3 linked regions of the Homo sapiens genome follow. The protein of the gene in region 2 purifies or fractionates together with the protein of the main gene of each other region. This does not show direct contact. Each region holds a gene or a part of one and is shown on either strand. Other genes may lie near its edges.

Region 1 (10,152 bases), on a different chromosome or scaffold from region 2:
GCTCCTCCGGCCCTGACGTTTCGTCATGAACATTTTCAAGCATGGTGAAATTTAAGGGTTTTCAGTAAGGACTCTGGGGGCCATGGAGATGTGCCTCTAGGACTTCCCACCACGAGGAGTGAACCTGATTACTTATGCCTGCGGAATCTGCCACATTTGCGTGGATTCTGAGGCTGCACCCAGCTGAGGACTGATGGAGGCGGGAGACCATGGCAGTCACCTGCTGAGACTCAGACTCATCTGGTGGGTAAGTGGCTCATGGACTCTCCATCAGCACGACCAAAACTTTCTACAGACCTGTAAGGGCCATCCCTGACTCTTCCTACCCTTCCCGTCTCCTTCCCAGGGTCAGACTGGCCTTATGGTCTGAATTCTCCCTTCCCCCTACCTTCCTCCCTGTTTCCATCACAGCTCTTTCCCCCAATAAATCTCTCGCCCATCTAATCCTGTTCTGGTGTCTGTTCTTTGGAGGACCTGAATGAATACAACATAATGAATACACCCACCCCAGTAGCAATTAAATTGACTGTAATTCATGATTAAATGTAATAATATGCCATGACATTAAAATGTACGTATTTTTGGACATTTGAAAGAAGAAATGCATAATATACATGTAATGGAAAACACCACAGACCATTGGTTTCCGGTTTAAAACAGCATTAACTTGACAAATCTAAGAGGTAGGGGAAGTTGAGGCCTTTGAAAGAGTTGAATAAGGCCAGGCGAGGTGGCTCACCCTGTAATCCCAGCACTTTGGGAGGCCGAGGCGGGAGGACGGATTGAGCCCAAGAGTTCAAGACTAGCCTGGGCAACACAGTGAGACTTCGTCTCTACAAAAATTAATTTTAAAAAATAAAAAAGAGAGAAAGAGTCGAATAAGCCTTCACTCATGATTCACTATGGTGACAGGCAGGAGAAATCTGAACACCGAGACCAGGAGGGCTGTCCCAAATCCTCTGCTCAATTGGGCCCCTTAAAGGGTGGTGTTCCATGAACTGAGAAAGGTGTGTGTCGGCAGTATTACAGATAAGTATTTTTATACTTGGAGAAAGATTAAAGTGGGCTTTAAGATTTCTCTTAAGAAAATTCCTAAGGATTTCTTGGCCGGGCGCGGTGGCTCATGCCTGTAATCCCAGCACTTTGGGAGGCCGAGGTGGGTAGATTGCCTGGGGTCAGGAGTTCAACACCAGCCTGGCCAACATGGTGAGACCCCGTTTGTACTAAAAATACAAAAGTTAGCCGGCTGTGGTGGTGCGCACCTGTAATCCCAGCTACTCGGGAGGCTGAGGCAGGAGAATCGCTCAAACCCGGGAGGCAGAGGTCGCAGTGGGCCGAGATGGCATCACTGTACTCCAGCCTGGGTGACGAGAGTGAAACTCCGATCCAAAAAAAAAAAAAAAAAAGAAAAGTCCTAAGGATTTCTTTGATTTATAAAAAAGGGTTGAAACAGTTCAGTGAGTTCCTGACAACAGGCTGTACCTAACTGATCATGTCATTGTTTTGATAATTGATGTGTTCTTTTTACAAATCCACCCATTACTATTTCTAGCGAGGATTTCAGGAACGGAGACTCTTGGACACTAGTGCTGAGATGCGTGCTTCCCGGAGAGCTATCTAGGGCTGTGGGGCTGGGCTTGGCGTCGGGTTGGCTCTACGCAGGGTCCACCATTTCCCTTCCTTCCCTGAGAGGATGTGGTTCACATGAGGTCCCTGGGAAGCCTGTGATCTCAGTGGACCCCTTGCCAGTGAACAGGGCTCATCACCATTGAGTCCACAGGGGGAATGAACTTGAGGGTATAAATCCACCTGAATGTCAACCAAGCCAAAAGGAACCAAGAAGGCAGTGCAGATGAAAGGGGGCAGGGGGAAGGCTGTGTGATTCCTCCCCTCCTGAGGCGAAAGGGACCCCTTCCTTATTTTCAACAGCTCCTAGCATATTATCACCTCTCTCTTCCCTTAGACTAGAATCACGTGCTGATGGCCCTATACAATCCTTTATGCTATGCAGTGCTACTTCCCATCCATTTCTACACTTTACAGCTGGAATTCTTCTATCCTCAGGTGTGGCCCAAGATACCCACAGCAGCCACCTTTATTTAAATCCTATGTCCTTTCAATCCCTGCTAAAAGGACAACCCAATATTGACATACCTTATGTCCTCAAACAGAACCTACTTTGATTTGAAAAATTGAGGCTAGGCACGGTGGCTCACACCTGTAATCCCAGCACTTTGGGAGGCAAAAGTGGGCGGATCACCTGAGGTCAGGAGTTCAAGACCATCCTGGCCAACATGTGAAACCCTGTCTCTACTAAAAATACAAAAATAAGCTGGGCATGATGGCGGGTGCCTGTAATTCCAGCTATTCAGGAGGCTGAGGCAGGAGACTTGCTTGAATCTGGGAGGCAGAGGTTGCAGTGAGCCAAGATCGCGCCACTGCACTCCAGCCTGGGTGACAGAGTGAGACTCCGTCTCAAAAACAAAAACAAAAACAAAAAACAACAACAACAAAACAAAACAGAAAAGAAAAATTGAAGTGGCATGACAACAGCAAGAGCACATTCCTTCCCACTCCCTGGTCTGCTCCGTAAGGGAGCTGCAGGAGCTGGTGTGGCCTTGACCCCGTTAGCTGGTCCCCCACTCCCACCTTCTAACCTCAGTATCTAGAGAGCAGCACTTCGGTGATAACTGCTAAGAAGAGGAAGAGGCAGGTGGAAGGTTTCGTGCCATGGACTCAGAAAAGTGAACAGAAGACAGCGGCTCCTTCAAGGAAGAACGTGTGCCAAGGTGAGGGTTTGGAATCAAATGGCCAAGAGCCATGATTACGGTGGACACGACGCCCTTCCTCAGGGAGGGGAGCTGCCGGAGGTGTCTGGTGGGGGAAGAGCTGACAGCCCACGTGGGGTGCACGTGGACAGCATCCACTGGGTCTGCCCGGGGAGCCTGAGCTTGCTCAACTCCCTCCGGGGCACTGCTCTGAGCCAAGGGCACTGGAGTCGTGGCTATTTGGGCATCCCTTACTAAAAGGATTTGGTGTAGGGGTCGGGAGCTTACCTGAGTATTCCAGATATGGACGCACTTGTCGAAGGATCCACTGGCCAAGTACTTCCCATCAGGGCTGAAAGCTACGCTATAGACAGGCTCCTGATGCTTCGTGAGCGTGTGGGTGCAGACGCCTCGTTCTATGTCCCACAGTCGCACCGTAGAATCAAACGAAGCACTAGCAAGGTGGGAGAGAAAGCAAAATCACATACACACGGTGGTTTCAAACAGTTCTCCATAATGTGTATCAGATCTCCAGGAGTTGTTTTTCCCAGCTTTTACGTTTCAAAAGATAATAACTAAAAAGCTTTTTGTCTTCTAAACTGTAACTACTTACAAGTATTAAAAACAAAGCCATAGTCATTAAACAGAAAAAAAGCTTTAATGGTCTTATTAGGGAAACAATTTGATATCTACATTTGTTTCTGCACCTTTTTTTTTTTTTTTGAGATGGGGTCTTACTGTGTTGCCCAGGCTGGAGTGCAGTGGCGTGATCATGACTCACTGCAGCCTCGAACTCCTGGGCTCAAGTGATCCTCCCGCCTCAGCCTCAGCAGAGAAGCTGCAACCATAGGTCCACACCCGGCTAATTTTTATTTTTTTATTTTTTGTAGAGACGGGGTTTCACTGTGTTGCCCAGGCTGGTCTTGAACCTCTGGGCTCAAGAGATCCTCCTGCCTCACCCTACCAAACTGTTGGGATTACAGGTGTAAGCCACTGCGCCCAGCCCTGTTTCTATGTTTCCTATAGACGTAAATGGTAAATATTTTTGTAGAATATTTATCAAGTTTCCTAAAATGCCCCTACAATTTAAAACATGACATCTATTATTACCAACTAAATTAATACAGACAGCCATATTTGGAAAAATAGCAAATTAAGTGAATAAACATTTAAAAAACTTTTTAGGCCAGGTACAGTAGATCATGCCTGTAATCCTAGTACTTTGGGAGGCCAAGGTGGGAGGATCACTTGAAGCCAGGAGTTCAAGACCAGCCTGGGTAACATAGGGAGACCCTGTCTCTAAATAGAAAATAAATTTTAATCAAACAAGAATTAAAATACAATCACATCCACATACGTAATCACATTATTGAAAGCTGCAAATTTTAGTTATTTTCAAACTTAGAACAGTAATATCTATCACAAAGCTATTGTCTGGCTTGCTTTCTTTCAACAGGGACCCATTAGGTACCGGGATGCCCCTTTTATACTTGCTGACTAAAAGGATAATTTATGCTCCTAATAGTACCACGCGACGCAAAAGCACCTTCTGAGTCATCACAAAACAACTCGAGTGTGTAGTACTATATCACACTATATCACAGTACTTTAAGTGGATTTTATGACAATTACTTGAAATATGAGAATTACGGCCTATGTGTTCTTTGTTTTTTTGGTTCCGTCTCTCAGTGGATGCAGGAATTCCATCCTGTCCTCTCTAAGAGATGACCTTAATTCGAGCACCGTCAACAGGAGTTGGTGCTGCCTGGCTTGCTGTCCCTCAACTGTGGCTCTGCAGTCATGTTGGGTGGTTTTTTTTCTTCTTCTGTTTTTTTTTTTTTTTTTTTTGAGACATGGTCTTGCTCTGTCACCCAGGCTGGAGTGCAGTGGTGTGATCACCGCGCACTGCAGCCTCAATCTCCTGGGCTCAAGCCATCCTCCTGCCTCAGCCTCCTGAGTAGCTGGGACTACAGGCACACGTCACCACGCCTGGCTAAGTTTTTGTAGAGATGGGGTTTCACCATGTTGCCCAGGCTGATGTTGAACTCTTGGGCTCAAGCCATCGTCCTGCCTTGGCCTCCCAGGGTGCTGAGATTATAGGCGTAAGCCACTGTGCCTGACTCAAAACCATCCTTACCTCAAAGGCAGGTGTTACTCGGTAATTCTATCCTGGCCCCTTCAAAGTGAGCTACCGCTTTGCTTCCTCTGAAGGGCTTCAACACACGTGCATGGACGCGCTTTAGCAGAATTTCCTGTTGTCTTTGTGTAACACCGAGCTGTGCCAGCTGTGTTGCCTGCCCTTACCTTGCCAACATGATGTTGGAGTTTGGGTTGCTGGTGGCGGGCCCAGTGGGGCTCCACTTGATGGTGTAGATCTCTTTATTGTGAGCCTGAAGATCATGGATGCACACCTCCTGTTTCATGCTCCAGATCTACAGAACACACCAGACACAACATGAGCAAAAGCCATTCCTGCATCCGGGAACGATGTGGAATCATTCCTCCCGGGGGTGCACACGGGGCCCAGGGCAGGGTGGAGGGTGCACAGTGGTGAGAAAGGCTGCAGGGAGGCTGCGATTCTCAGTGGGACTATGACTGAGAAATCGTAGCTCACCGGATGACAGAGGAAGGGAGGGTGGTCAGTAATAAATAATCCTCATGTAAGAGTGACCGTGAGACTGGCATCAAGTGCCCGGGGTTGTCTAGGATTAAACAGCCCACCCCTTGCCATGCCGACTCTACCTTCAATGTCATGTCATCCGAGCAGGATGCCAGCAACATTCCAGACGGATCCCATTTGATGGCGTTGACCTCGTTCTGAAAGAGAGCAGAAGAGTGTGAAAAAGACATCAGGGCCTGTGAGTAGATGAGGTCACCTTCCAGCAGGGGGCAGCAGCGCGCCACCGGCGCTGCAGAAGGTCTTCGGCTTCAGCCTGACATCAAAGGGCACAGCCCAACCAGCCATCTAGTTTCCTCTTTTTCTCACTTTGCCTTTTTCATTTATATAAAACCACAGCCCTATACCACACAACACCAGCCACTCTCATCCATACTTCATTAAGAAAAAAACCTTCCCTGCTAGGAAGGAAGGCAAGTGAAGAAATCACATACCATAAAACGCAGCAAATAAAACCAGTAAAACCAGTTACTTTTTAAATTGGCCTTTGAAAATCACTTTCCTATGCACTTTTCTTTTTCAGACAGGGTCTCACTCTGTCTCCCGGGCTGGAGTGCAGTGGCAGGATCACAGGTCCTTGCAGCATGTACCTCTTAAACTCAAGCAATCCTCTTGCCTCACCCTCCCAAGTAGCTGGGACTACAGGCAGGCACCACCATGCCCTTTTTTTTTTTTTTTTTTTTTGGGATTTTTGCCCAAGCTGGTCTTGAACTCTTGGGCTCAAGTGATCCTCCCACCTCGACCTCCCAAAGTGCTGGGATTACAGGCGTGAGCCACCATGCCAGGCCTCTTATGCACTTTTAATGTAACAGTTCCTCCAGTGTCCACACCCATTAGAAGGTATTTCTCTCCTGCAGGTGAGTGGAGGCGGAGGGAGGGGTAAACATGAGAAGTGAACCCTCACCTATTACGGAGTTCAAGCGGGGTAAGGGCTGATCCAGGTGGAAGATGGGCGACCCAAATGCACACACAGGCAGGCACACATGTGCAACACAAGTGAGAGGCAAATGCTGAGTGGCACAAACACACATGACACAGGCAAAATCCTGGCTGGGGGCTCGTGATCGGCACAGCCAGGTAGCGAAAAGCACAGGCTCAGGACACCTGGGGACCACGAGGCTAAACCCTGGAGGATAAAGGTGAATGAATGTACCCAGGGGCCAAGGGAGACGGGGACACTACCGGGACAGGCATGTGTAAAAGAACCACCTGTGGCAAAGGTTCAGCTGGGGAACAGCCTACCCAGGAGAAATGAGGGGACATGGCGTACCAGCTTGGGGCTCCCTCAGGGGTGACTATAGGGCCCCATATGTCCAGTCCAGTCCCACCATGTGACACCTGCTGTCCCGGCCTAACAATTAACTAATGACACACTCATAATGAATTTTCTAAATTTCATACTCCTAAGGGCTCCGGTTTGGATTAACTGTATGGTCAGGTTGCTTTCTAAGAACATGGAGTTTTGAAGGGTGTGAACTGGACAGTGACAAGGCCACATCTGTGTTCCATGAGGCACACGTGGCCCAGGAAAGGGAGGAGGAAGAAGTTTCGCGGCCCAGGGGCAGGCTGCTGCGAGAGCCCGGGAGGGTGGAGGGGGCCGACTGGAGAGGGGGCTGAGGGTTGTGAGTGTGCACACGCATGGGTGTCTATGAGTGTGAATGTGTATGCAAGGCCAGCAAGGGTGGCTCTGACTGCAGCTGTTCAGAGGAAAACTCATGGGCCCAGGAATGTAGAGCTGGTCACCACTGGCTGTCCCTAGCCAAGCCCATGCAAAGGAACAAATAACTTCCTGGGAGCGGATCCCTAGCTCTGCAATGCAAGCCCCGGTTCCTGGGCCGCCTCCAGAGCCGGCTCATGGGTCTCCACTCAACCCCACTGAGCTGGAGCTTTGTTCAGGGCCATCAGCCACATTAAGACCCACTTAAAGGGCCAAGGCCTGTGCTGGTGGCAAGGTCCTGGGCAGGACACCTGGGAACTGCAGATAGTGTGTACAGCTCTATTAAAAACTTGTGGATAGTCCAGGGTTAGAGGAGAAATAAGTTTAGACCGGGAGAAGAGAGTCAGTTTGGAGCCAAACAGATGTTAACAGGACGATAGGTGCCTGTGCTCTAAAAGCGCCTTCCTTTGGGACAGGGACCCCTGGGCCAGGGGTGGGGAGAGGTGGGCATTAGGGGAATCAGGACAAGGGAATTTACATCAGTTAAGTTAGTGGCACAATGGCAAATCTCCAGGGACTGTGACCATCCTCTCCTGCTTTAACAAGGGACCCCCACCCTGCCCCACCACAGAGATATCCTGGGTGCTGGTGAGAGAAAGGCAAGATGCCATGGTCCCAGCATTGATGCACTCTGCGTTTTCTGGGAGAGGCAGACACGCAGGCCAGCAGCTACTGCCAGGGCTGTGGCATTCATGTGGGCAGTAGGAGCTCAGGGGGTGCCGTGAATCCTCCCCAGGGCGTGCAGAGGATACGTGAATGGGCCTGGAGACTGGGGAGGATTCTGTTTTGGACCGAGAGCTGCTGTGGGGGTCTAAGGCAGGGAGCATTCCAGGCAGGGCTCAGCGCGGGGCAAGGTGCTTGGCTGCACGTGTCTTTAGGAGGACAGAGGCACAGGGAATTTTTGGACACTAGCCCAGGAGGTCGAGGCTAGTAAATGGGTTTACCAGCAGACTGGAGATTGCAGAAGGTTAGAGACCATAGAAATTGGCTAATCTGAGGGAGATTTGGTGAAAGACCGGGAAGCGCCTCAGAGGCCAAACTAAGGAATTTGCTAAGTCAGCTGTTGTTCCCATTGTTGTTCCCTGGTATATAATGGATTTGTCAGCCTCTGCTTGCCTTTAGGATTTTCTCTGTCATTGATTCTGGTGTTTGATGGCCATATGCCTAGGTGGATATGGTCTGTTCTGTTTGTGTGGTTCTGTTTATATTTGTTCTGCTTGAAATTTGCTGAGCTTCTTGGATTAAATGTTGATGTTTTCCACCAAATTTAGGAAAACTTGGCTGTTACTGCCTCAAATGATTTTTCTGTTCCATTCTTTCTTCTCTCCCCATCACGCATATAGGTTTAGGGTCTCTGATATTGTTCCATAAGCCATTAAGCCTTTATGCATTTTTTCGATCTTTTATCTGTTCTTCAAATTGGCCAATTTCTATGCTCTCTAACCTTACTTCCGCAATCTCCCATCTGCTGGTAAATCCACGGATGTGGTTTAGGATCGGTGTCCCCACCCAAATCTCAGGTGGAACTGTCATCCCTGATGCAGAGGTGGGGCCTCGTGGGAGGTGTCCGGATCATGGGGGCAGATCCCTCGTGGCTTGCTGTCTTCGTGAGTTTTTGTCCTTTAAAAGTATGTGACACCCCCCCCACTCCTCCCACCTCTTGCCCCTGCTCTGGCCATGTGAGGTGCCTGCTCCTGCTTCACCTCCTGCCATGGTTGGAAGCCTCCTGAAGCCTCCCCAGAAGCAGATGCTGCCATGCTTCCTGTATAGCCTAAGGAACTGTGAGCCAGTTAAACCTCCTGTCTTATCAATTACCCAGTCTCAGGTATTTCTTTAGAGCAATGAGAGAATTGAGAACTGCCTAATACACCCACCTATTAAGACTTTCATTTCAGACATTATATTTCTCAGTTCTCAATTTCTTTTCTTTTTTTTTTTTTTTTTTTTAAAGAGACAAGGTCTTGCTCTGTTGCCTAGGCTGGAGTGCAGTGGTGCTACTGTAACTCACTGCAGCCTTCAGCTCCTGGGATGTGACTACAGGTGTGCATCACCATACGCAGCTACTTTTTAAAATTTTTTGTAGAGACAGAGTCTTGCTATGTTGCTCAGGCTGGCCTCAAACTCCTGGCCTCAAGCAATCCTCTGGCCTCAGACTCCCAAAGTGCTGGGATTATAGGCATAAGCCACCACACTTAGTCTCCATTTGTTTTTTAATGATTTTTTTTTCTATTCACTGCAGATGTGCCCCGTCTATTCATTTATTGTGAGCATCCTTTCCTTGATGTCCTCTACATGTTTCTCATGGCTACCTTAAAGGCTTTGTTGCCAAATCCACCATCTAGGTCATTTCTGAGTGAACTGTTCTCACTGCCAACCCCAAACTGAGTCAATCCAACCACCATGGTTACCATGGGGTAACCATGACAGCTCAAATAGCCAAGGGGCACATTAGAGCTGGTCTGCTGCTGCAGTAGCTTTTAATTCTAGGCACACAAGAATCGGCTCCCACATCACATTCTCACAAACTCGAGACCAGTGACAAGAGCTCTCACTTACTGTGTGTCCCTGGAAGGTTTTGACTGGGCGGTCACAGCCGAGCCTGCACACATGGATACACATGTCTGTGCTACAGGAGGCAAAGGTCGTGTTGTTCTGCCAGTCCACATCAAGGGCAGGGGCTGCAGTAGGGAGGGAGGACATCTGGAGTTACTCACTGTTGCACAGCTCCATGGATTTACAACAATGAACAGCACAATCAAGAAGCCTCTTTAGTTTACTTATTTATTTATTCTAGAGACAGGGCCTGCTCTGTCACCCAGGCTGGAGTGTAGTGGTGCGATCATGGCTCAACGCAGCCTAGAATTCCTGGGCTCAAGGGATCCACCCACCTCAGCCTTCTGAATAGCGCATGCCATCACGCCTAGCTAATTTAAATTTTTTTTTTTTTTTGCAGAGACGAGTTCTTGCTATATTGCCCAGGATGGCCTTGA
Region 2 (10,152 bases):
CTGGGGTATTATAGCCCCCTTCGTTCATGTGGGTTCTTGGAGGATTTTCTCCATCTAAAGTGGAACAGTATCACTAAGTAGGGTGGTATGCATACTTTCCCCCAGCCACCCAACTCTTATATTTAATCCTTAAAAATATATAAAGGAAATATATTTAAAGTATATAAAATTATCTTTGATAGTCAAGATCAATTTTTAGGCAATGAAAGCAAATATTTATGTCATCTCTCGCTTATGGTATTTTAATTTTAATGAATTTCACTGAATATGTTATTCTGACACATGGTATATCTATAAACAAGAGGAAATGGCCATCATTCCTTTGGTCATTTATAGTATTATAAAAATGAAGTTACTTCATGCAATAAAAAAGAACCGTTAAGGCACCATCATATTTTGTGAGAGCAACCTTAAAAATAGCAATTATGGTGAACTTGCTAATAGAGGCAAAACAAAGAAAGCAAAATAAAAATATTAACAAACCTTCAGAACATGAGTCATCACTGCTTACGCTAAGCCGTTCAGCATTGCCTTGAACATACTTGTTGTATAACTTTATTCTCAAAGCCCAGCTTAAATCTGGCTGTCGAACGGTATTCTTAAGCCGACGTCTTGCATTAGCAAACCAATTTGACACCTAAAACAGTATTATTTTTCAATTAACAAAACTTAAAAACATTATCCATGGTGCGATTATTTTCTCATAAAGGAGCTAAGCCTCTCTCAGCACCTCTGATCATTAAATATTCTCAGGACATAAGAATACCGGACATTCGCATCCATTCATTCATTTGACAAACATGTTGCTTACTACAGACACTGAGCATTTAGTGTATTTGTGGAATAAGGAAAAATGAAAAGGCCTTGACATCAAAAAATTTAATAAGAGAAAAGTCCAGTAAGAGAAGTAGGAGGGTATACAAATAACTAGTATAAGAAAGAATGTGATGAATGGCATACAAGACATTAAAATGATACGAGTCCAAAGGAAAGAGGGGTTACTTTCATATATGACTCCAGCCTTTTTGAGGAAGTTAAGTGAGCCTTTGAAGAAAGTCCAGAATAGGTCAGGTCAAGAGGGAAGGGAAGTGCATTCCCAATAAAGAGGACACAGGAACAAATAGAAGTGAAATTCCACAGAAATTGTAGGGGTTGAAGAAGAGGGAAGAGTTAAAGATGACCTTGAGTCATCAAACCTGTGGAACCAAGAGAAGGGTAGTGCATTTGGGGAAGGAGATGAAACTTTCTGAGGATAAAATGATGTGTTTGGCTTGGGCAATGTCTAGTTTGAGGTGCTAATACTGGTGACATGTCTGGTAAGAAAATAAAAGTGGTATCTGAGATTGAAGGGAGGGGATGAGCAAATTCAAGAGGAAAAGGCACAGAGGTAATAGTCAAAGTTGCAAGAGTAGAGAGAGTGAAAGCAGGGTCAAGGGCCAAGCTTTGGAAACCATTAGAGATGAAAAAAGTGGGATCTGTTCGCTTCCAAAAGAGGCGTTAGCAAAACAGAGGTAGAACCATGGGTGAAGAGGGGGAAAATAAACCAAAGAACTCCTCACTTTAAGCCAAAAGTCAAATGTTTCTTAGACAAATAGGTGAAGGCAAAGAAAGAAATATGTCAAGACAAAGAAAAGCTACTTCCATTCTTTTTTTTTTAAAGATGTTACTGGATTTGATACTTGAAATTTCTTCTAAAATACCAGGTTATCATCAGTGCATAGATTTTTAGAAACTCAAAAGGGCAATACTTGCCTTTAAAAGAATGAAACATGGGAAGAGAATTAAATCTTTCTGCCAGTTTGGTCCAGAACATGACCAAACTGAGGAATTTAAGCTAGGCTTTGAAGAAAGGCCAGATTACTATAATGGTTTGTGTGGCAATGTTTGCACTGGAAATTTCTACTTTTTTTTTTCTAGATTTATACTATAAATACACATTTTTTGTGCATTACTCAAGTCCTTATTATTCTACTTAAAAAAAAATCTCAAATTATACTTTTTCTCCCTGTCCTCATGGGTAAACACACGGTGGGTTTCCCATATGTATTTAATATTCAATATAGTTAATATTGTCTTCTTTGTACCTGAAGCAATGATAGTTATCCTTTCAAATTTATATGCAATGACATATTATCTCACTGTGGCATTTCAGAAGTCAGTCTTCACCAATGCTTCTTCCTGCTAAGCTATGTTACTATTACTAAGATTCAGTCTGACTTCAAATTCTCAGTCCTTCCCATTCTCTACAGACAGACAACAAAATTATTGAGTGACTATTGTACTTTAGCCATGGTGTTAAGTCCTAGGAATGAATAAGCTTTGTCTTCTGCACTCCCAGAAGGACTAGCGGAAAAGAACTACACATAATTAACTGGGATACACTGGTGAACATTAGCTGTGGAAGCACAAGGAGCCTGATCCCTTTCTTCATGAAATTTCTCAAACTCCCTTGGATTCTTCAACTCACTGCCAAAATCTTCATCCGACTACTTTATCCAGCCATACTACTAGCTGGGAATTTGAAAACATTTCTCTTTCTAACTTCCCTGTCTTCCATTCTGTTCTCTTAAATGGATCTTAGCAAGTATCATCAAATTCAAGAATTGATGCACCATTTTGATTTAGTCACTTCACTTCTTCAAATCCTCATAAATGTCCTGTTATCCCATAATCACCATACAGTGGAAGAGGGCCTGGCTTCCTGTTCTGAATTTGCCAAAAACATGCTGTGTGAATTTGGATAAATTATTCAACTTTTCTGAACTTTGAATCCTTCATCTCTAAAATGGATTTGATGGTTCCTAATATCCTTGCTAGCTCTAAAAATTAAGATGGGTGAATACATCCCAAGTTCCCCTACAGCAATGTTAATTTCCTTTATACTAGGTACTAACCTCCCTCTGTTGACCAGTACTGTCTCCAGCAAGAGTGTTTTTGTCCTTCTTTGCTCCTTTCACACACAGAGTACAGCCTGCAACTTCCCCTAGATCATTCATATTTACTAGAATCCAACTCCAAAACATTTTTGTAACTTTCTTTACTCAATGGGATATAATTCAGACTAACCTTAAATCTTAACTAACCTTAAATCTTCACACAGCAACCACACATAGTACAGTGTAAAATCCAATTCTTATGAAACTCTTCTTATAATGAAAATGCAATGGCCTTCTAATTTTTTAAAAAAGTAATACACTACCCTTCTAACAGATAAAAATGGGGGAACATTTAAATGATTTAAATGTCACAGGGGATTAACTAACTTTTCATGTATAGGAGTCATATCTCTTTTAAGTTTTATATACTCATAGTCTTTTTTTTAACCATATTATAATAGTTACACATTAGGTGATTTTCCAGAAAGGTTTGCTGATGTCTATTATAGACTGTTTCAAAACTGATTTCATAAATTGACCACCACCCAATCTGGTAATATATATATTCTGCTGGGGTTTTTTGTTCTTTTGTTTTTTCAGTACAACTTAACAGCTAGATACACTCCAAGGTCTTTAATGTGTATTTGCAGTAGGTCCTGCAAACAGCAAATAGTTAGTTAACAAATTTGCATATACTTGTTTTGCATTTCTTTCTGGATGAATTAATGCAAATTCCATCTGTTTCACTGAAGGTAAAAATATCGGTTCAAATTTTCCACTTTTAATCTACTATGGATTCCTTCGGGTTGTCGTTCATATTCTCTTCAAATTGTATTTTACATGAAACAGGTCTCCTTAACCAAGGATAGGTTCTGGAACAGAATTTTAATGTCAAACTGAATGCTATATGTGTATATACGTATAGATGTTTGGGCCTCTAAGCTTTCACTATAAAATATGGGAGATAGTTAGATATGACTAATTTATATAATTATGATTTATATCAGTATCTATCTATCTATCTCCCATATTTTATAGTGAAAGATTAGAAGGCCAAACATCTAGAAGCTGGGAGGGAAAACTAAATAATATTCATCCTACTTTAACAAAGGTGTTTACATTCATCATGTTGACAGAGCAATTGTTATAGTACACCCAAAGGGATAAACTGGCATCTGTCCATGTTTGAACACACTGAATTAACGAACTTCTGAGCTATTCAACTGAAATATTGAGCACTTCATTTCCACACCATGTAATATAACACTTGGAATAATGAATAAGGACTGATCTGAGATTTTGTTGAATATTTAACGTTACTATAAGCCTTGTAGCTGATAATGGCATATATATATCAGCAGGCACACTCAATACCAAGCAAAAACAGAGTTATGTCAACAGAGGAGACAGAATCTAGGAACATAGCAGTTTTAACAAATCGTATGTGGACATATCACAGGAATATGAGACTTTCATTATTAGAGGAGGAAGCATTAACATCTACTCATTACTCCTTGATAAGTTCCATATCCTGCAATAATACAAACCCCAATCACATACCATTTTATACTATTCCACAATAAAGCTGTTTATATTTTGAGAGTACAGAGTGTATTTCTATAGCATTTGAACAATGATCAGCCATAGGATCAGCCATAAGATCCGTTGGTAATTCTATACATTTTTATTTTTTCCATTTATCACTTTAAAGTTTCAGAAACTAGCTTCATTAATAATAAAATTTGAAATCATTATACAGTTGTCATTTATTATTATAAAAATTATCTTACCCCACTTAAAATTACATATTTCTGTGCATTTTTATTTTCTGAGCACTAGTGTAAGAGAAAAAAAGTGTTTTGAATGAAAATTTCATGTAAAGCATATTTTAAAAATGTAATAGCCTTACCAAGATCTAAATGTAAAAAGCATTTTTATTTGTATTTGAACTATCATTACAGGTGGCAAATAATTTAAAATTATAACTACTTGTATTGCAGCTCAACAAAAACCACTACATAAGAAAGTTTAAATGGCTCTCCTAATGACAAATGCTACTTCATAATTTAAAAATGTCCTAAAATATGTCATCAATGTTCTTTTGTTTTCTGTATGAAAGAATAGTCTCTATTAAATATGAAGCTCTATAATCAGCCAAAATAACCTAGTGTTTCATTGCTGACATCACTGTGAAATATTCAGATAACTCTATAAATTAGTGTATTTTAAAAATAAGTAGCATACTTATTTAAACTGAAATTTTAACATAGGTTATTTATTTTCATAAGTCAGGTTTTTCTGACTGGAATAATTTATTTCAAAACTACTTTGGTACATTGCTAAAAGATTCATAGTTTTATGTTAAACAGATATTAAGCCAAGAACACTAAATTAATTTTCCCCTCCACTGCTGCAGCAAATCACTATTAATACCATTGCCTGATAATATGAAAGAAAACAGATGTTTTTGTATATAATTATATTCTGAAAATAAGCAGAAATTACGTATTCTAGTATTGATAGCCTGACAATAAGTCAACTTTCATGCCTTGTCAAACTTTCCAGTAATTCCTAAAGGGAAATTTTAAATACTCTGGAAAGCAATCTTTATTTTATCCACTAGTTCCTTTTTCCTTTTTGGAGTTCCTGCTTACTGTAAATTTAGCGGAATGGCCAAATTTTCACAATCAGGTAATGCTACCGCAATGTGCAAAACTTTTCACCTGATGTAGCCCCTCCTCCTCTTCTTTCTGAATAAATTTGCCTATTTGCATGTAAAAAAGTTCAAGCCACCGTATTTATTTTAAAAAATTGTGACATGACGGGAAGAGCATTTGGTCTGGAATTATTTATTTCCAGGCCTGTCTTTTACTGACACAACTGCCCCAAGTCTTGATTATGTCAAGTGTAAAATTCTGATAGTAACTGCCTACAACATCGTGGTTTTGTGAACAGTAAGATTCAGTTTTGAAAAGCTAGTCAAATGTAAAGTAACGTTGTTCACCAGAGAACACACAAACTTTGCACCATTTCTCTACACTTGGCAAAGTAACCCAACCATCTGAAATCTGCCTCCTCTCCTTAAGCCCAGCAGAAAAGCATCAGGAGCAAAATGCTGTGGATTGCAGCTAATGTTTAGGATGCTTCCTATTAAAAAATAATAATAAATAAGTGTGTGTGGGGGGTTGTTGATCCAAACATCATTTCTTGTCTTTCTATCCCCTACTCCTAGCTGTCAGTAATGGTAATTTTGAAAGTTACTCTGTACCTGAGCTTTAATACTGGGCCTTAATATGGAGCGTCACACTGCGTGGTTCTCAAAGTGGGGTTCCTCCCTAGCCTCTGCTTCAGTAACACCTGGGGCCTTGTAAGAGATGCAAATGATGGTCTCACCCCAGACCTGCTGAATCCGAAACTCGGAGGTGGGGCCTAGCGATTCGTGTTTTAAGCTCTCCAGGCGATTCTGATGCTCACTAATGTTGAACCTTCTCGTAAGTCTGCAGTTTACTTTTCACTTCCCTACCTGACAGCGCATCCTGCATTCTTTCCTGCACGGAGCATCTGCACTGAACTGAGGGATGAGGGTGAGAGGTAATTCAGAAACTCCCACAGCTCGGCTCCATCCCTCTCCAGGTAGAAGCGCCACGTGGAGAGCCACACGAACTCTAAGCGTTCCCGCTCTTCAGCCCCTCGCGGGAAAACGGATCAGGGTGTTAATGGGTCCTGATTACCTGCACTAGCGTCATCTGCGAGCCGAGGGCCAAGAGTATCTTCTCGGTCTTGGTGGGGTACGGGTTGTCACGGTGCTTGTAAAGCCACTGCTTGAGGGGTCGCGCCATGTCTTGCAGGGCCTGCCGCTTGTGCCTCACCTTCCCGCCATTCTGCCGGGCGCTGGGACATGGGGAGAGGAGGCGGCCCTGGTGAGCGACGCGTTTGCCCGCCCGGACGCTCCACGCCCCGGCCAAGCCCGGGCCCCGCATCCAAACTGCGCATTCCTGCCTTGCGCCCCTGCTTTGCGCGCGCCCAGAGTGTTTGGGAGAGGCAGGAAGTGGGAGCCACACAGTTTCTGGATGGGGAGATCATTTCGATAGGTTTATCTTGAATAGGGGGATACCTTGAACCCAATACCCCAAGGTTAGAGGTTTAGAAGACGAAGGTCAAGTGATTTGAAGAATACTGCTATTCCAGTCGCGTATCTGGGCAGCGGGGCTAACTGCTACCCTTCCCTCACCCGCTGGCGCCGCACCCTCGAGTGGCCCTGGCCTGGCAGGCCTGGCAGGGTATGCGGCTGGCTCTCGAAACTTCCCTCGGGGATCTCTTGTCTGCTCCCAGAGGCTTTCCGTCGCTTGTGGTCAGGGGAAAGGTCGCCGACTGGACATAGGGAATAAAGCAAAGGAGCATTGCCGCCCCGGCTCTCTTTAAGCTATTTCCTTTGATCTTTTAGGAAAAGGGGGAAACTTTCTAAAGGAGTTGGTGGTTTGTGGAGGAAAGCTGCAGAACCCAAAAACACCGTCGGGCCGTTTCCCGACTAAGGGAGGGTTAAAAGTACGGCAAGCTCTGTCCCATCATGTAAGGTAAAAAGACCTCAGGAAAAGCACATTCAAAGGGGGAGGAGGCAGAGGCAGCCAGGAGCCTGGAGCGTGGCCTGGGGCGCTGCGCTCCCTCACGGGTCCGGGAGGTGTCGCGCGCGGCCGCCAGCGAGCCCAGCCGCTCCCCGAGGCTTGCGCGCCTGCGCCGGAGCCTCCTGGGTTTCTGCCTCTTTAAACACTTTGAAATGCAATTCCACCCGAAACGACTGGTAGTAACATTTTGACGAAACCGAATCTCTGTTTTACTAAGCAGCGACGCCGCAGAACAAGCAGCTGATGCAATCGTTCAGGTGGAGGCGGCTAGGACGGCCGCCCCTCCCCGGCGGGGCGCCCGGGGAGCCGCCGGATCGGGCCAGGCAGAGCCTGCCCTCCACTCACCGGCAGTCTGAGCAGCTGGCCCACCCGCAAGCTACCGCCCCCCCCAGCATACCCCTCACCCCGCTAAACTCAAACCCGGCCCCGCAGGCCCGGGGCCTCCCCCTCCGGGTTCGCCGCGGGCCCAGCCGAGCCGCGCTCACGCCCGGGACTCCCTGGCGGGAGGCGACCTTCCCGACTCCTTGGGCCAGGCGAGCCGCGGGGCTCTGGCGAGGGGCTCGAGTGACCGAAGAGAAGTCCGCGGAGCCTGAGCCTGGACTCCCCGACTGCTCGGCTTCGCCTGTTTCTCTGCACCGAGCTCAGTCCTTTTTCCTCGCCCTCAGCCGCGCACCGGCACCCACAGTCCGGAGAGGGGCAAATAACCCCCAACTCCGAGGTCCAGGCAGCGGAGGGCCGAGGGGCAGCTCCTGGCGCCCTTAGTCTCCACCAAGCTCTTTGGAGCTGCCCCGACGAATTGATCCCTCATGTTTTAAGATAGGAGCCCCTTAACATGAGAATGCGCGAGCCCTGGAGGGGCAGACCTGCACTCCCAGGGAACTCCGGGCCCTTTCCCGTCCACCCGCCCGCGTTGCCACGGGACCCCGTCACAGCTCACCACCCCCACCCCTCCGGGCCGCAGGCGGGCAGGGCCCCCAGGGGAGTGCGCATACCCGGTCCTCCGGTGTCTCAGGCCGAGGTTGTCCTTGAGGGGCGGGCCGTCGGGAATGCCCACCTCGGGGCGGGCGTGAGGACTGTCCAGGACACCGCTGTAGGGCCGGCCACCCCGCTCCCGCTCCGAGGCGCCTCCGTCCTCAAACAGCACCGCACCGCTGAGCTTGTTGAAGACGATGGTGTTCATGGTGTCGGTTGGTAGGGACGCGCGGCGCGGCCGCAGAGCCTCGGGGCTGGGCCGCCGGGAGCTCCGCAGCGGGGCTCGGCTTCTAGGAGAGGAAGGTGCATCTCGTTACTTACTGGCTGAGAGTGCTCAGACCCCTGCAGGTTCAGGGCCTTGAACTTGGCCGGGTCGCCGGGCTGCGGAGCCGAGGGGAGGAGCGGCGCCGCCGCAACTGGCAGGGACCCTGCGGCTCTCCCCAGTTGGCTACACGCCCCCGCCCCTGCAGGTTCCCCGGACAGGTACCTGCCCTCTTCCTTGCCTGGGCGATCGATCCCCCCAATCCCTTCACTCCCCAGAACTACAACCGGGAATCATTCACCCGCAGAGGCAAAGGAAACGAATTCCCAAACGAGCCTCTGGGTTTCAGTTTGAATCTGGGAGAGGCATACTCCGGACTGCGGAGCGCGACCGGCGTGAGGCCGCGCGTGGTTCTTCAATCACAGCAGAAGACTAAAGCCTCTAGGAACCCCAACTCGGGGCGTCAGGAGGGGTTGGATGGAAGGGAAGATTTGGGGTAATGTGCCAACCGTATCCACAAGACCCCCCAGCTCATGAGTCCCAGGCCATACCGGGATTTGGGGGATTTTCGTGTTTTCTAGATCGTGGATGGTTTGGTTGAAACCCCCGCATCTTCTGTCCGCCAAGGTCCCCCGGGGTGAGGTTGGGTTCAAGGACAGGAAAAAGTTAAGTGGCGTCAGGACGAAAGCACCACTTCTCCCCCTTCTCTCCCAGAATCTTCCTATCATCCCCCAACGCGCCCCGGGAAGTGCATGGTCCTAAGGTCCAAGGCGCCAGGACCCAGGTCCCCAGAGCCCTCAATCAGTGCCATTCTCTTCCGCAGCGCGGGTGTCAGCCGCGAGCTCGTAGCCCCTCGACACCCGCCTCTCTCTGGGGTCTCCGGGGACCCTTTCAGAGGCTGTAAAGGTGTCAGAAGCCCAAGGCAGGAGGCAGCTTGGTCGGCGCACCTCCCGGGCCACTGCTGCCACTGTCGGGGAGAGCCAGCAGCTCACCTCTGGGGTCGCGGAGGCCCTGAGCCTCTGCCTGCCGCGCACCGGCGTCAGGAGCAAGTCCGCGCGGCCGCGGAGCCGCAGAGTTACAGCCCCAAGGCGCGCGGCGGACTTCGCCCGCCCCATCTCCTCGCCTCGCGCCTCGGGACAGCTCCCGTTTCCTCCGAGCGGCCTCAGCTTCGCTGCCAGCGCCCCCTTTGCCCGTCCAGCCGCGGCATGGGCTGCTACTCCACTAACACACGCGCGCGCGCATACACACACACACACACACACACACACACACACACCCTTTGCCTCGCCAAGCGCCCACACTCGCCAACGCCCCCGCCCCGCCCTTCGGCCACCGCAGCAGAGGCCACGCGTGACATTTAGGACCACGCGTGACCACCGCGATCAAACGACGGCTACGGTCTGTGTTCGTAGGGAAGTGA
Region 3 (10,152 bases), on a different chromosome or scaffold from region 2:
GTACTTGAATGTACTTAAGTGGATGGGACAATGGTCCCTGATGGTTTCTGTGAAAAAGTGAGTTTCTGAATTCAATGATTATGATCTCTTTTGTATTTTTTTTAAAGTAGGTATTGAAAATGCTTAGAAGGACATATGTCAAGTTGTTAACAGTGGATACCACTAAGGACTTGGTTGGGAGTTTGAAAATGAACATTTATTATTTATACCTTGTATTTAAATTTCTTTAACCAGCATGTGCTCTACAATAAATATACCACATGCTAGTGACAACCACCTCCCACATTATGACACAAAACCAAACAAGCATATGAAAAGCAGCACACATACCTTGTGCTACCATATTGGTCAATGGGTAGGACAAGGCATAAAAGATTCCAACGCACATTCCAAGTTAACCAACACTGTTTAAGAAGTAGAATGAACTTACCGCTAATTGACTCTTATCAGACTTCATTTACTTCAACACCAGATCTGTCCAACTTCAGTTTATTCCCACACACTAAAATATTTCAACCATTTCAGGTGGAAATATTAAAATCCATATTACATAGCTAATTTTTATGTCATATTAAACTTAACTTGAATTATTTGATGACTCTAGGCCATCCCAAATGGCAGCTCTTCATTCTGCTAGGAGTTTTAGCTATTCCTCCCTCTCTATGGGGAGCACTGTTCCTCATGGACCCAGGTTGGAAAATCAGATAATTGATCTGGTCCAGCAAGTGTACGTAAATTAAACCAATAAAAGCTTAGGGAAAAGGTCTTGTCTTGGCAGTGTGTAGATTCTTCAAAATCCCCTATATTGAATGTGAGAGATCCTGGAAGCTGATCCTGTTTTTAAATGTCTGATTTCAGACTGTGAAGTTCAATGTGACTAGATTTTTTAATGCAAGTCTATTTGAGGTGCTCAGGCAGTGCTTGTTTTCTCCACAGGAGCCCGGCCCAGTGGCAATCCAACCTATGCTTTACGGCTTTCTGACAGCACAACATCTCTTAAGGCAGCTCGTTCTGACATTAGATTAGTATGTCAGAAAGTTTGTTTTTTTTTTTTTTAAATAAGACTGTGATATCTTTTTCGGTATAGATTCCACCCCATTGGTCTTAGTTCTTAAAATATAAATTGTCTGCCCAATGGATCATACAAACCCAACAACCAAGAAACATTAGTAATTGTCTTCTGTACTTTACTAAACACTTTGTGTTTAATATATTTTAAATTGTAAAGAAATTACAAGGAACTCCTAAAAAAATTTAATACAAAAATATTACAAGTTAGGACAATTAAGCATTAAGATGACATTTAAGAAGCATGCAGAAAAAGTAGCATAGGGTTAACATTTCATTGATGACAAAGCACTTTGGTACAGCAGAGAAAAGCACCATAAAACTACCATCTAAAGTGTCTTTTCCTCCACTGTATTTTTTCAAATGAATATATTGGTAAAACAGTAAACTTTGATCTGATCTGCTACGGATTATACTAGGTAATAAATCTAATCCATTGTAAAGTGTTAACTATGAAATTAAAAATAATCCCTTCTATTACTGTTCAAATTAGTTTCAGCTTTCCCTCAAGCTTATAAGGATTCTAATCCTTAGGAGTCCAACCCTTTTTGGAAAAGTATACAATGCAGGATATTACTAATAATCTATGCCATGCAATAAAAGTTAACCCCTTGAAAATGAAAGCATGTCAGTTCTAGCAACTGCAGTGGCTTATTTCTAATAAAACATAAAACTATGCTTGAATTTATTTCTGTTTAAGGAAATAAACAGGAAAAATAGAAGACCTAGAGAGTGTAAATTCTTAAAAAAAAAAAAAAGAAAATATGCTCAATGATTCTTTTTAAAAAGTCTCTAACTCTAAAGGAGTTGGTATTAATTAAAACTAGAAGGTGTCTAGTTGTTTTTCTTATAAAGTTTGTAGTAACAACTAGCTAAGAGAGAAAATGATTCAACTATAATTGGCTTGTTGTGAAGCAAAAAAAGGTCACCGAGAAGTTGAGCCTCCTGCCCTAATCTTCAACACATCTACACATTGTTTTGTGCTCAACCGTGTGGCTAACCAAACAAATGTTATCTAAGGTCTCTTTTTCAGCTTCTGTGAAATAACGTCTTTTAAATACAATATTTATTTTTCAAAAGAATTAAAAATTACAATCCCTTAGCTGATTAGATGCTCTATTATACTTTAATAAAAATAGTAAATAACCCCTTCATTTAAAAAAATCTTATCTCCTGCAAGAAGTAATAAAAATAGTAAAATTTGTAATTTTATTATGGGCTTAAAGTATATATCTTGGGAAACAATACGTTTATGAAAAACAGTGGTTTGGGTTCTGATGGCAGTTATTAATCAGTAACACCAGTATGGGAGAGAATGAATGTGTTATAGGTTATGAAGGCTAACTTGGAAAAAAAGGTTTATTCTACAATAGAACACTGGAGAAGTAAAAGCAATTAAAATGTAAACAAACTGTAAACAAGAAATACCATCCCTCTCTCTTTACCTGACTAGTAAATAGTCTATATAAACTACATAGACATCAAAGGTTTTATATATGTACACAGCCAACATAATATCAAAATATATTTTATTCTGGACCTCTTTCAGATCTGATTCAAATTACAGTTGTCAAAGCAATACAATGCAAAGGGGAACTGCAACAACAACAACAACAAGAAATGTGCCTAGAAAGGATAAAAGGGTCACTGGGGACAAATCATTGTGATGTGGAACTAAAATACGTCGTAAGTGTAATTAACATGGTCCAGGACAGCACAGAACATCTACATCAGTCTTCCTTACACAATAATCATGAAAACTGAACAATGAAGTTCTTTAACATGTACAAAAACCTGTCATGGGCTGGTTTACACTTTTACAACAGTTTTAAAGTTAACTGGATAACTAAAGAAATGATGCAGACATTTTAATCCAGTGCTATAGGTAGGCTCACAGAATTAGACCCAAAGGATTTGTAAAAACAAAAATGGAAACAGTATAGCTACAATGTCAAAGTCAGGAAAGAAGAAAATTTACTTCCGTATTCAAGGATTACAGAGCTACAAATGCAGTCTGTGTGTTTTTGTTTGTAATGAGATGGATAAGTACATCAGACTAGATACAACATGCAGAATGTTTTCCTGAACTTATCCGGAAATTCCAAAGAAAACATCATGAAACAGCTTACAAAAAAAAAAAAAATATATGCCCTAGTTATTCACCCTGCTTCAACACTGTCAACGTAAAGGCAGAAATAAAGCAAGCTATCAATACCTCAGAACTACTGATATAAGACATCAAATTTCTAAATCAGTGTATTAAAAAAGTGAACACTTCCTCTTTCTTCTCTCTTCTACATTTAACTAGAATCATGTTTAAAAAAAACTGATATTAAATGTGACACTTCAGAGCTACTACTGGAAGGAGTAATTCATAACTTCCCTACCCTCCTTCCATCCCTGCTGATTCAGGAGAAGGGGGAAAAAACAAAGAAAACAAAACGAAAAACCAACCAGGGTCTCTTGTAGATTTGCTGCTATTCCACAAAATGTTGGCATTTGCTGCCATGCCACAATGTTGGTCCACTGAAATAGGATTTCTGCGGAAACTGTCAACAGTAGTAATTCACCATATGCAAGTACCATCCTTATCATGCGAGAATAATCACAGGTTCTGTAGAAATGTACAATGTACTTAAGATAATGAAAATTGTAGCGCTGCATTTGAGATTTATTTCTCTACTTAGCTAGTAAAACTTGTCATTTTTGCTCACTTAAGTATGATCATTTGTGATTCCTTTAAATAGCAAAAATGCACAGTCCTCTTTAGGCCTCTACTCAATAATAGTTTACATTACTCTTAACAAAATCATTCTACATAAACAGATAGCTCCTTAAAAATAGTACTCTCTCATTAAATCTAATTTGACAGAAAGAAGTTTAAGGGAAAAAGGAGTGCTTTGTAAGTGAAAAAGTACAAATCTTTGGCCTTTCTCTTGACATTTTCGTATGTCAAAAAGCAAAAAACCTTCATGTATTTCAATCTAGTGATTACTTTTTGCACCATAATTTGTTTTTTACACCACAAAAGGAGGCACTTTCAGTATCTGTAAAAGGTATTTAATCCTAAAACATACTTACCTAGAGAATAATTAAAACAGAATTCAATACAATCTAGTATCTATTAGGAAATTAAGAGTTATCACTTCTAAAAGTCATTTGAAAGTCAATGATGTTATCTGGTCAATGGCAGGAAATGGGAACTGGAACAAATATAAGAACTTATGGGATTTCCTACACGGAGACAAAAAAAGATATTCCTTTATGTTGTTTAAAAGTGGCAGCTGCTCTTTCTTTATTCCATTTTAATCAATGAGTATTGATTCAAGTTTTCCTTTCTATTTTTCCTTATGATAAGTTTCTTACAGTAGCTTATACAACAACAAATAGCATAGAAAAACTACTGGATTCAATTGATCATCAGGAATAAGTTCTCAGAAAAACACAGGCGGAAAAATAAGCAAGAATCCCAAATACAGAACTTTACAAGCTGTGAAACTTGGTCTCTTGCAATCATGTTACTGCTCAAATTAGAGACAATCTTATTGCTGTCTATTGGAGCAGCATCGTGGCACATCAGCAGGCAATGATGATGTTGAGAACAGCAGCAAAAATAAACAATCGTATGCTCATGAAGAACCCAAGCCTACAAAATGGATACCTTTCAGAAAAGTATATACTTAAAAGACCCAAGACGTCAGGATAATAAAGCTCTGTATTTATAATCTTTTATATGTCCTATTGTGGCTATTATGCTTAAGTAAAATAGCTAAAGAAAAAAAAGAAAAAAAAAACAGAAAAGATGACAATATCATAAAAATGTAGCTGTCTATTTTGGCAGCTATATTGCAGAATTTCTTGACTATCTTTTAATCAGCTGGGAAAAAGTCAATAACTGTATGCAAATGAATAAACTGTCCATATCAAAATACAAAAGTACTATCAATAATCACCTCTGACTTTCAGATTTAAATTCAGTGCAATTGACAAATGCATCACTAAAGGAAAATGCAGCTTAAAAGATACTCAAAACATTTGTGTCTATTCCTGGGAGCACATTTTAAAATTATTGCACAGATTTTTTTAATTTTTATTTATTTTTTTTAAACAATAACAGAGGTCAACCACAGATGTGGACCTCCAGCAATAAAAGCAGGAATTCAAGTGCCAGATACTCAGCATATTAGGTTTCCTACGTAAGTCACAGGGTAATATGTTCTAAATATCTCTAATGTGATCCAAAACCCTAAAAAGAGCTGGCACAAAACCATCGTGAATGACTGCCTCTCTTGATGTAAATTTTTAAAAATATTATTACAGTATCATAGTCCCCACTAACAACAACTGGGGTACATATAACAATGTATTGTGAAATTAAGTGTATTTATTCTCTTTACCAATAGCAAATGCTACCCTACCTTAGTAAAACCAAGACTTGCTTCAATCAATGCTGTTTTGTAAAAATAGCAAAGCAACGAATGCTGAAATCAATCAAAGCTGCATTACTTGGGTTAAATCAGTTTCTACTTAGAACACAGGTTAAAATTTTAGTACTAAAAGGCCTCAAAATAATTAGTGACAGAAATAGTGTTATTAATTTGCTAAGCTCAACAATAAGCAATTCCTTAATTAAAATCTTCGAGATATAAATTTGATGACTATTCTCTTCAGAAATGACATACCTGGATTATGTTAATCATGACAAGCCTTATTAGTCACACATATAAACATGGCCTCATGCAATCATTTGTCTGTATATGTTACTCTAAGTTGCATGAGCACAAGGTTTAATATCTATATCTTTAAGAAAATACTTGATATTATAAACAGAGTAAAAGACATGATATAGTAGTGATTACTAAAAAAAAAAAAATTAGCAGCTTAAATCTATCTATATTTGAAAAAACGTAGTCACAAGTACCACAAATGCAGAATCAGAGCAGCAGGAAGAAGGTTAGTGCAATTATACTTTCATTAAAAAAAATTCTGAATCACTGCTATTTAAAAACACCTTGAAGCAAGTCTTTTGTTTGAGATTGTTTTTTAAACTAAGGTAGCAAACATTTTGCCATGTAATGGCAGTGTTATATGCCGTTATCTTGCTTTGTATAAAGAAAACAACATGAGAGATTTTTAATACTGGAGTTTGGTTACATTACATATTTAAGCTTCTACACAGAATGATGGACACTTCGAGAAGCTAATCCTTATCCAGAAACATTTTAATCTCTTAAAAAACAAAGCAAAACAAACAAACAACAAAAAACCCAAAACTACGTTGCTCCTTTTCACAATAGTGCACATTTTTACCATAATTTAGTTATGGCTACAAAACATCAGAAGATTTTTTTTAATGTATCTTCTCTATGGTAATTAAAAAAAAAGTTGTGCCCTTCTAGTCTTTAATTGGCAGAAATATGTCCCAAAAAAGAAACTATTGCATTTAAGCCACATCACCAAAAAACAAAAAAGAAAAAAAAAAAAAAAAAGCAAAACAAAAAAACAAAACCAACAGAGCATAATACCCTTTTACTGATGTGTCTTACAGATTGACATGACCAAAGTCATAGGTTTTCATTTAATTTCCAATTCCCCCTTCCACAACATGCACCAACTGAATATATGCTCTGGGAGCCATAAAATGTACCAAACATCTACCTCTTCAAAAGAATGCATTAAAATATTTTAAAGAATTTTTTGTTTAAAAGGTGAAAAAAATATAAACAAGAAACTGATTCACTCCCTTACTTCATGCATCCATAATCTAAACCAAAAACGAAATTTTAAAGCAAGAACAAACTACTGCTGCAAGTTTTTGTAAGTCCATTTTCTCTGTACATACAAACTGCTCACTACTGAAGGGAAAAAAAGAATATAATCCATGGTGTCTGCTGATTCAAAGGGGAGAAACAAGGCTGTCATTTAGTATCCAAAAACTGGTACATGTATGTTCTGCTTTTATAATGTATATTTTTCTCTCTTCTGTTTTTCATATCCAAAACTTCTAAATGCTATTTTAGGGGCACAGCAGATTAGATTCCAGCACTTGGTGAACAGAATTCACAAGCTGTGACAAAACTCTGTCATCTTCAGGGTGCAATTTTGTTTATATACACTGTATGTATATATTTCTTTTAGATTTGGCTGTAGTGGACTGGCCATGGTTCAAGTGGGACTATAGCAGTACATGGGTCAGGGACAGTCATTTTGGCTATGTACACATTCATAGTCGGTCCATGGCTTCCAACTAGTAGCGCTATTTCCGAAGGTCTAATACACAAACCTGTAAGAAATTAAAATAATCAACCAGTGTATTCAGAATTTTATTGTACATTTTATGTTTAACTTTTCTATAGTACAATTTGAAATGTTTCTTAGTTCCAAGTTTATAAAATTGGTAAAGCATAATAATCATGGAAATGAGCACTTAACTGACAGAAATCAGACAGATCATTTAAGCAGATCAAGAGAACAACCATGAGCTCAAACTGTGGGGGAAGAACCACGGCTAGGATTTTTATACTCTCTGTTGATTAAAAAGGAGGGGGAAAATGCTCAAAACAGACCATTTCCTATCTATTGGACCCTAATGAAAGATATCACAGATTATATTCAGCTACAGCATCAGTAAATAGCTACCCTTTTCCCACCTTCTGGTGCTTCTACAGCTTTGGAAGCCATATTTGCATTGTTGTAAAGAGTTGGCTAACCTCATCCTGAAAATCTTTCAGTATCACACATTCCTCAACACAGGAACCAACTGCCTCTAGTTCTGCCTTCCCTGGGCCAAAAAAATTCTTCTGTGAAGAGGAGAAGGTAGAAATACACATTAAACATTTCAATCCTTCTCAGAATGTTCCTCTGGTATACCTAATTTCATAAATGAAGGTTCATATTAAAAATAACTGTCCATTTCTAGATTATAAGGTATTTGGTAAGGACAGCCTAAATTTTGTTTACATTATTTGAATCCAACGCACATGAAAAGTTTACAGCCTCAGGAAAAAAAAAAATCAGTATCATACCTTAAAATTTATTTTGAAAAAAACACTTTGGTATCACTAACAATAAGCTGCATTCTGATGTGAATACCCACCCACACCCTCTTTGGAAACACTTTACTATACTTACTGAACCATCTGATGCACTGGCTCCAACTTTGTCTCCTGCTGCATTCCAGCAAACTTCAAATATTCCACCTGTTCCCCTATAGCTGTGAACTAGAGCACCTGTCTAAAAGAATGAAAAACAAAATCTTAAAAATCGTAATACATATTATAATAAATCCAAATGCTGAAATAAAAATATTACATAGCTTTATTTCTAGCAATCAGAGGAGGGACTTAGCTTCAACTATAAAAATAAGTTCTGAAATTCTAGAAATGTAATATGATCCCTTTACAAAAAGATAATACCAGCCTGTTCTCAAAAGATTACTCACACACATATTCAGTTTCTCCAGTCTTGATAACCATTCTTGGCTAAGGTATCTGGTCTCTCTGACATAGCCAACAATAGCTAGAAGTAAACAGTCAGTCTATCACATGAAATAAGTTTTTGTTGTTGCTAAATGATACATGAGTCTAGCTAACATGTAGAGAAACAAAATAAATTCAGAATTTCTTTGACAAAACATCTTAAAGAGGAAGTATAACAAACTAGTAAAGATAATTCCAGTATAAATCTGTTATTCACTCTATATTTACTGACCAGTTCCTAAGCTAGGGGATTATAAAAGAAGCTAAAATAATGTATGTATGTTCCTTTTTTTTCTTTAGACAGGGTCTTGTTGTTACCCAGGATGGATGCAGCTGTGCAATCATAGCTCACTGCACCTTCTAACTCCTGGGCTAGAGTGATCCTCCCGCCTCCACCTCCTAAGTAGCTAGGATTACAAGTGCATGCCACCATGCCCAGCTGATTTTTAAAAAATTATTTGTAGAGACAAGGTCTCACCGTGTTGCCCAGGCTGGTCTTGAACTCCTGGCCTCAAGCAATCCACCCACCCTGGCCTCCCAAAATGTTGGGATTATAAGCATGCACCACAGTGCCCAGACAGATATGTACACTATTCTTGAAAGACGTTATATGTTTAAACAAAAAACACAGGCAGGAATACTAATAATGTAATCATTCATTAAGCTGAATCATAAATGTAACAACGTTATTTTATTATTCAGCTGCTACTGAAGAATTAAAACTCAATCCAAAAATATATTCTCCTATGAAACCAGTCAATATAACAGGACAAAGATCAGAGGTCCTGTTATGAAAACTGAAATATATGCTTCAGGTGTTCGGCCCTGACAAATCAGAAAAGTGACCTCTGCAGCTTTATGGTAACCTAAAGTCAAGCTAGAGGTGGCAGATCTACTTAAAAGCACATGGCAACAAACCATGCACCTTGAAAATACCTCCCATTCAGCCTATCCAAGATGACAAGCTGGAAGAATGTTTGACCGAGCTTTCCTCTTCAAATTTAGCCCAGTAATGTGGCACAAATCACAGATGCATTGGTACTGACACATTGCTACTGATTATCAGGCTGGGAAGGCTCAACTGTTTTGTTTACTTAAAATTTCTCATAATTTATGAGATTAAGTTCAAGTATAGTAGGCTTTGAGTATCTATAGTTAATGAGGAGAGAAAAAAGTAGAACCAACAAAATCTAGTTTGCTGAGATATAAAAAATAAAATCTACAGTCAACCTACAGACATTCAATCTACAGCCAACTTGGGGGTTAAAAAAACAAAACAACTTTCTTTTAAAAAGCACTTACCAATCTCTAAGCTTGAACTGGGCTATAACGAACCAAAACATTATGGGCAACAAGGCAGAGCTAAGACATTTAAAAAGGCCAATGGCTCAGATCATCGGCATCTACCTCAAATTTGTATGTATGCTGGCACAAGACTTCTACAATTTACTCATCAAATGCTTAGGCAACTCATCATACAAGAAAGGGGAAAACAAAAAACCTGGATGTATATACAACAATAGGATAATGATTTTCTCCTGCACTGAAAATTCACTGTTTTACTATTTTCAAAGTTTGAAAAAGTAAGACTTTTGGTACACAATAG

The links.
Region 1: the proteins of MKX (region 2) and TBL1X purify together in Homo sapiens (affinity purification with mass spectrometry; 3 studies listed by BioGRID and IntAct, with this or other methods). This does not show direct contact.
Region 3: the proteins of MKX (region 2) and TBL1XR1 purify together in Homo sapiens (affinity purification with mass spectrometry; 3 studies listed by BioGRID and IntAct, with this or other methods). This does not show direct contact.

The regions. Positions count from the first base shown.
Region 1 is NC_000023.11:9,704,681-9,714,832, reverse strand, and holds part of TBL1X (F-box-like/WD repeat-containing protein TBL1X), read right to left. Parts: intron 9,841-10,152; coding exon 9,719-9,840; intron 5,586-9,718; coding exon 5,511-5,585; intron 5,201-5,510; coding exon 5,073-5,200; intron 3,223-5,072; coding exon 3,057-3,222; intron 1-3,056. UniProt on the Homo sapiens protein: F-box-like protein involved in the recruitment of the ubiquitin/19S proteasome complex to nuclear receptor-regulated transcription units. Plays an essential role in transcription activation mediated by nuclear receptors.
Region 2 is NC_000010.11:27,734,738-27,744,889, forward strand, and holds part of MKX (homeobox protein Mohawk), read right to left. Parts: exon of another isoform or gene 9,725-10,152; intron 9,656-9,724; exon of another isoform or gene 9,284-9,655; intron 8,761-9,283; 5' UTR 8,679-8,760; coding exon 8,491-8,678; intron 6,768-8,490; coding exon 6,608-6,767; intron 638-6,607; coding exon 484-637; intron 55-483; coding exon 1-54. UniProt on the Homo sapiens protein: May act as a morphogenetic regulator of cell adhesion.
Region 3 is NC_000003.12:177,018,174-177,028,325, forward strand, and holds the end of TBL1XR1 (F-box-like/WD repeat-containing protein TBL1XR1), read right to left. Parts: intron 8,302-10,152; coding exon 8,200-8,301; intron 7,352-8,199; coding exon 7,325-7,351; 3' UTR 1,171-7,324; downstream 1-1,170. UniProt on the Homo sapiens protein: F-box-like protein involved in the recruitment of the ubiquitin/19S proteasome complex to nuclear receptor-regulated transcription units. Plays an essential role in transcription activation mediated by nuclear receptors.